2 linked regions of the Homo sapiens genome follow. The protein of the gene in region 1 purifies or fractionates together with the protein of each later gene. This does not show direct contact. Each region holds a gene or a part of one and is shown in the gene's direction. Other genes may lie near its edges. The genes, in order: DEAF1 and AMOTL1.

Region 1 (3,817 bases):
CCTGCGTCGGCCTCTCAAAGTCCTGGGATTACAGGCATGAGCCACCATGCCCGGCCCTGATTTTGCAGAATTTTTATCTTTATGAGGTTGGGCACGGTGGCTTACGCTTGTAATCCCAGCACTTCGGGAGGCCGAGGCGGGCAGATTGCTTGAGGCCAGGAGTTCGAGACCAGCCTGGTCAACATGGCAAAACCTGTCTCTACTAAAAATACAAAAATTAGCTGGGTGTGGTGGTGCAAACCTATAATCCCAGCTTCTTGGGAGGCCGAGGCATGAGAATTGCTTGCGCCGGGGAGGCAGAGGTTGCACTGAGCCGAGAACGTGCCACTGCACTCCAGCCTGGGCAACCCAACAAGACTCTGTCTCAAAAAAAAAAAAAAAAAAAAGAATTTTTATATTTATGAATGGTAGGTAAGTGGTAAAAGTGGTTGAAATCTTCTATTATTGAATGATTGACATTTAGGGGCTGACTTGCTAATGCATGGTGGTTCTTTTCACATCTCAGGATGGGATCTTAAACCCTCACGCTGCCTCTTGCACCTGTGCTGCCTGCTGCGACGACATGACCTTAGTAAGTGGCCAGCGTGTCTGGAACAGGATGACTTGGTGGGGCTGGGGGCGGCTGAGTGGGTCCCACAGCCCTTGGCCTCTCGGCTGTTTCCCTCCTGCCCTCTGCCTTGGAGAGAGACACTGTCCTCACTTCTCCTGGGTTGCTCTGTTCCCTCCTCCCTGATACGTCACAGTGAATCCTGATGTCTCGATGGGGAACACGTGGTTGGCCCCCAAGATGTTGCTCAAAGAACATTTGTGGAAACCTTAAATAATGAAAAGCGGTTATAATGTCACCGCCTTAACTCTAAAACTAAACATACACGCTTTTCCTTGTATGCATGCCATTTTATATTCCTCATTTTGTAACATGTCAGAAAAATGCTACTGTAAACTTATTCATGTGTAGAGCTTTTAACGCCTTTTTGACGTATTTCCTTATTCTAAATTCTTAACTGCTTCACAAAGACCCAAAATAATTTTTCTTTCTTTTTTTTTTTCTGAGACGAAGTCTCATTCTGTCGCCCACACTGGGGTGCAGTGGCGCGGTCTCGGCTCACTGCAACCTCCGCCTCCTGGATTCAAGCACTTCTCCTGCCTCAGCTTCCCGCGTAGCTGGGATTACAGGCATGTGCCACAATGCCCAGCTAATTTTTGTATTTTTAGTAGAGATGGGGTTTTGCCATGTTGGTCAGGCTGGTCTCAAACTCCTGACCACATGTGATCCGCCCGCCTCAGCCTCCCAAAGTGTTGAGATTACAGGCGTGAGCCACTGCACCTCAAAAAAAAAAAAAAAGAGCATGGAGAGACCTACCGTGTTCTTGGGGTGAAACACTAAACATCCTAGAATTGTGTAGTTGATATATAGATTTCATGTGATTCTAGTGGAAAAAACAATTTTGTGAACGTAAAATAATTTTGAAGTTGATTGGGAAAAGCCAGTCGGTGAGACTCTTAGAGACGCTGCAGGAGTAAAGGAGCCGGGAGGAGACGTCGGTCCCATTGGCAGTTGAGCCTGCAGGTAGATCATTTGCAGGGGCTCCAACACTGAAGTACTTAGATGTCAGTCTAGGAAATCATGTACAGGGTTTGTACGTGGAAGATACTAAAGAAAATGCTGAAGAGAGAGACCAGGGAAGATTGAAATACGTCAAAAGACGTCCTGCGCCCGTGGATTAGAAGACTCAGTAAAGATGCGACTTTTTCCCAAGTTGATTCGTAGGTTTAACACAATGACTATCAAAATCCCAGCAGGATTCTTTTTAGATGCAGACAAGCTGATTCTAAAATTTGCATAGAAAGGTAAAGGAAATAAAAAAGCCAAAACAGTTTTGAAACAAAAAAGCCAAAACAGTTTTGAAATAAAAGTTTAAAATGGGTGGAATCACATTGCGGGGTCTTAAGACTTACGGGCTCGTGACAGTAATCAAGATAGTGTGGCACTGGCAGAGGGAGAGACCCCACGATCTGGGTCAGACTAGAGTGTCATAGTAGACTCCAGCAAATGGCCTTGGAGTGACAGGACGTTCATCAGCAGAGACAAAGGATGACCTAAACTTCACACTTGGTACAAAAATGAATTCAAAATGGGTCATCGATCTAAAGTGAAAGGTGAAACTATAACATTTTTAGGAGAAAACACATTGGAAAATCTTCCTGACCTGGAGTTAGAACTAGGATTTCTTGGATTGGACTTCATCAAATTTTAGAACTTTTGGCTTCCGCTTGGGGAGTGGTGGTGTGATGAGCTCAGTGGACCAACTCTCCAGAGAAATAACTAGTGAAAATTGTGAAAAAATAACCCCTTAAGGTCTCCAGAAATTGTCCTAGGGGAGTACAGCAAATAAACATCCAAGAAAATGTAGTAAGTCTTGGAAAGGGCAGTGAGGATTGTGACGTTTGAGCTACGACCAGCTCCTTCCCTCCCTTTCTGCCCCCAGCTCCCTATGGTGGAGGCTCCATTGTGGGTGGTTGTGACCAAGAAAACGGTTCCCACTCCTTGCAGTTCCCGGTCAAGGGATATGGTATCTCACTGGGAGGGGCAGGCCACCAGCATTTCTCAACCCCTTCAGCTCTAAGTTGCAGTAAATTCCTGGGAAGTGTGACTGAAAATCTCTTCAGTCATCCCCACTCAGAGGGCAGAGGCTTTACCCAGGCATGGGAGGCCAAGCATACGGAGCCCCAATTTCCATCAACCCACATTGCCCATAGGGTGGGGTGTCCATGCAGTGAGAGGCTGCTGCCCCCCACACAGAACCCGGCTAATGCAACAGAATTCCCTCTGATAGACTCAGGCACTGTTCCTGCCTCTAGGTCTATAGTAGGGGCTCAGACATTCAGCCCAAAAGAGAGAGAGGCCGTAAGAACAGAGAGCTCCAAAGCCCCTCCCAAAGGAACTGACTTGATTTGAAACAGTATGGGGATGTTCAAGCCTAAAAGTGCCCTGGAAAAGAATGGACATTTTGATGGTAAGCAGTTAAGAGGAGGCCAGCAGTTCCATTAGAGCAAGAAACTAAACTGTAGGTCAGCAGGTTTACCAGAGAGGCGAGGAAAGCCACAGCGAAGAACCCATCTGGGAAACCGACCTTCAAGATCGAACCTCTCAGTAAAGAAGCCCTAATTTAATTGGCTCAGACAGTGGAGCAGTGTGTGCCCCAGGGCATTGTTGAAAGTAATGGAGCAGGCAGCTGGCAGTTAGTTGATTCTGACACTTGACTACACCAACAGCTTAACAGAGATCAGGAAGAGCGACAGCCAAAACTCCCACCACCAAAGGTGATTGCACCCCACCCAGGGCCGAGCCCTCAGAGGAGCAGCAGCCGAGGCCGCCCCAGGAGAACAGGCTCAGTAAGATAGTCCAGCTCCGTACCTGAGTAATAAACAAGCTGACAGCAGCAAGGATCCCAGAGAAAGGAGAACTGCTTTCCACTGTTGCTACAATGTATCACCTGCGGTGTCTGATTCTTAACAAAAGATGATAAGACATGCAAGGAGCCTTGGACCATACACAGGAAGAAAGCAGGCAACAGAAATTGCCTGGAGAGGTCCGGATGTTGGGGTTAACAGGAAAAAGCTTTAAAATGGCTATCCTCAGTATGTTCAGAGGACTGAAGGAAACCACAGCTAGAGATTGCATGGAAGGTCTGAAGACACTGTCTCCTCACTGGAGAATGTCAATGAAGAGATATAAATTATTTAAAAAAAAAAGTCGGCCGGGCGTGGTGGCTCACGCCTGTAATCCTAGCACTTTGGGAGGCCGAGGTGGGCA
Region 2 (3,817 bases), about 94 Mb from region 1:
AGGATGGAACAATGTTTAAGAGGAAGCAGAGGAGAGGGAGTGCAGAATAGTAGACTCGCTTTGAATTGGAGAAGAAAATTCCATGAGACATTGCCAGGTAAATGGAGGTGATGATGCATTTGAAATCTTATTTTTAAATGTTGCTGTAGTTAGAATGTTAATTATGTACCACATAGTCACAGACATATATCTCCTGTGGAGCTGCCTGATATCTTTTTTCCTATGTTTATCTTTTAGTTGAAGATCCTCTTTGTAACTTCCACTCCCCAAACTTCCTGAGGATCTCAGAGGTGGAAATGAGAGGTTCCGAGGATGCGGCAGCTGGAACAGTATTGCAGCGGCTGATCCAGGAACAACTGCGGTATGGCACCCCAACCGAGAACATGAACTTGCTGGCCATTCAGCACCAGGCCACAGGGAGTGCAGGACCAGCCCATCCTACAAACAACTTTTCTTCCACGGAAAACCTCACTCAAGAAGACCCACAAATGGTCTACCAGTCAGCACGCCAAGAACCGCAGGGTCAAGAACACCAGGTGGACAATACGGTGATGGAGAAACAGGTCCGGTCCACGCAGCCTCAGCAGAACAACGAGGAACTGCCCACTTACGAGGAGGCCAAAGCACAGTCGCAGTTCTTCAGGGGGCAGCAGCAGCAGCAACAGCAGCAGGGGGCGGTGGGCCATGGTTACTACATGGCAGGGGGCACCAGTCAGAAGTCCCGAACTGAGGGGAGGCCCACTGTGAACCGTGCCAACAGTGGACAGGCGCATAAGGACGAGGCGCTGAAGGAACTGAAGCAGGGCCACGTCCGCTCGCTCAGCGAGAGAATCATGCAGCTGTCCCTGGAGAGGAATGGGGCCAAGCAACACCTTCCCGGCTCGGGGAATGGAAAGGGCTTCAAAGTAGGAGGGGGGCCCTCCCCTGCCCAGCCTGCAGGTAAAGTGCTGGACCCTCGGGGTCCTCCACCTGAGTACCCCTTCAAGACCAAGCAAATGATGTCCCCAGTCAGCAAGACCCAGGAGCACGGACTTTTTTATGGTGACCAGCACCCCGGGATGCTCCACGAGATGGTCAAGCCCTACCCTGCTCCTCAGCCTGTGAGAACAGATGTGGCCGTCCTGCGGTACCAGCCACCCCCTGAGTATGGGGTAACGAGGTGATTATCAACTGCAGACGTTTCGTGCGGCTTTTCAAAATTCAATAGTCATGTTATTAGCATTTATTATTTTCAGAGCAGATTAGGTTTTTGTCATCAGGCTTTTTTCCTTATGCATGATATTTAATAAACCACTTTGTGGCCAGAATATATAGGGTGAAATAGAGTAGAGGGCAACTGAGGGATTTTCTCCAAACATAGCAGCAGGCAGTTGGGGATTTATGAGTTTAGGGGAGGGACCTCACTTGTTAGCTGTCCTTGGGAGCTCTGCCTAGTGGCCTGGCAAAGTAGCAATTTTCCAATGGCTTTGTGGAGACCGTCCAAACTCCTGGAACATATTATTACCAGAGGGTTTTATAGTCTTTTTTCATTGTAGATTTTAAAGGAAAATGTAGTCTGAATGCTAGAATGGAGGAGTTAAAGGGACTGTAGAAATCACATAGTCCCATCCCTCACTCAACAGATGAGAAACTAAAGCCTGGAGAGATTAATGAATTTCATAGACACAACTCTGAGGCAGCTGGGGGCTACACTCAAGTATCCTGACTGCCAAAATCTATTCACTCCCTTGCCCTAATTCTTCCTACAGCCTTCACTTGTATTCTTCCAGTTGATTGATGGATTCAGCAGCACCTACTGAGTGTATGCTGTACTCTGAAGCCCTGTTCCTGGTTCAGAGATGGGGTCCCTGCCCTTCAGGACCCTATAGCATTGTCTTGGAGGAAACCAGCATCTGAACAGATCATTGCCATTCAATGTGCTGTTCTAGGAGAGAAATGGGCCGAGGATGCTAGGGTAACAGGTAGGATAGTATAACTCACAACTGGAGGGGCTGGAGAGAGCTTCCCAGAGGAGGTGACATTTGAGTTGGAACTTGAAGGATAAATCAGAGTTGTAGGGTAGAGATGAAGTAGCAGTATGTGCTGTGTGAGGGAGTGCCGTGTCTTCAGACAAAGAGGTCATGAGGATTTTTGTCTGGAATGAGTGGCAATAATGCAGAGCACTGGTGGGCAAGGGTGTGGTAAGAAGTGACAGGAGATATGTTTGGACAGGGAAGTTGGGACCCGTTTGGTTGAGGTATGTTTGGACAGGGAAGTTGATGATGACGGTCTCTGGGTGTCGTATTAAGGAGTTTAGAATGTATCCATAAGCAATCGGGAAAAGCGGTGTTCTTAGGTAGGGATGGTAAGTGGATGTCTAACAGCTGATTTTGGTGGCAGTGCATGAATTAGAGGAAAGGGAGCCCCACGCCACAAGGAGCTCCAGGGATGCTTTCAGTAGTCCAGATCAGAATTGGTGAGGGTGGCCAAAGCTTGGGCAGGGAGAATAGAGGAGCATTATGTGCTAAGAGAGGTAGGGAAATAGAACTGACAGGGTTTAGGGATTGGTTAGATACAGAAATTCTGGAATAGGGATGATGGAAATAAGGGAATTACGAATCAAACTCTCAGGAGAGAAATTGGGTCTGAAGATCACACTTTGGGAGTCAGAAATGTTTAGATGTTGCTGACATTGAAGGAGGGGCAGGGAACATGAACAGAAAAGACATGTGGCCACTGCCTATTATTGGATGTGTCATTTTCATGAAGGGCTTTATTATCTGTTTCTAAATTGAACAAGCCAGGGTTTTCCCAAGCGACCTCAGTGGCTATGTGCAGGACATACCTTGGCTGTACATCTTCTGAAAAAGGAGAGGCTGGAGGTTGGCAGAGGGAGAGTGGCCTGATCTGCCACTGGCTTCCCAGCACTGACACATTTCCCCACATTAGACTGAGAATGCCAGCTCAGAAGCAGCATAACCAACTGTGAGATCTTGGCCAGGCAGGAGAACGCATTCTCCCTAAGTGGGCATAACCGGACTCCTCCCAGGAATCCAAGATGGGATCCAGGAGGCTCTTCTTCCCCCTTTATAGCTCCTTGATCAAATCCCTGGTATTTGCATCACAGTGATTTACCACAGTTGTTTAAAATAAGCCATGATGTTATTCCACCATCATACCAGAGTTTGGCTTATTATATTTCACCCTTTTCCCTGATAACTTAACTCAGCCTCTAGAGCTTGATAGAGGGGAAGCTATCCTGAAATGAAATCCCCTTCCTCTTCTTTGCTTTACTATTTGTAAAGTAATATGTACATACCGTGCAATGCATACAGTGGATCACTTTGCCTTTTGTCATTTGGTAATAGGTGTGATGTGAGGTGGGAGAAATGGTCAGGGGAGGAGGGGAACACTTTTGGAGGTCATTTTTCTCAAAGTTATGACGTTAGAAAGAAGAAGAAATGTGTGAGGGATTTGAGCTGACTGCCAGGCTTGGCAGCTGGTTAATATGACGCATCAAATGTCTCAGGAGACGTAACAGACAGGCCATTGAGGCTGGGTCCCAGAGCCACAAGGCCCCTTTGTGAACAGGGCCATGGCTAGCCAGCATGGCTCCAGTGGTGCAGCCCTTGGCTGACTGGGTAAACAATATTGCATCCACACCAGCCCTGCTTCAGACACATTTAACGTGGCCTGAACTCGAAGGATTGGACCTGAAACTCAGCAGTGTGTCATGTTCAACTTGCCTGTGACCCAGAAGACAAGTAGGGCCCCTTTCATTTCACTGACACATTATCTTGTGCTTAAAGGGTTATCTGTTTGTCATTGATCGTGATGG

Evidence for each region.
Region 2: the proteins of DEAF1 (region 1) and AMOTL1 purify together in Homo sapiens (affinity purification with mass spectrometry, with the first as the bait; one large-scale study listed by BioGRID). This does not show direct contact.

What each region holds. Positions count from the first base shown.
Region 1 is NC_000011.10:681,652-685,468, reverse strand, and holds part of DEAF1 (deformed epidermal autoregulatory factor 1 homolog), read left to right. Parts: intron 1-505; coding exon 506-571; intron 572-3,817. UniProt on the Homo sapiens protein: Transcription factor that binds to sequence with multiple copies of 5'-TTC[CG]G-3' present in its own promoter and that of the HNRPA2B1 gene. Down-regulates transcription of these genes.
Region 2 is NC_000011.10:94,799,153-94,802,969, forward strand, and holds part of AMOTL1 (angiomotin-like protein 1), read left to right. Parts: intron 1-237; coding exon 238-1,159; intron 1,160-1,186; exon of another isoform or gene 1,187-3,817. UniProt on the Homo sapiens protein: Inhibits the Wnt/beta-catenin signaling pathway, probably by recruiting CTNNB1 to recycling endosomes and hence preventing its translocation to the nucleus.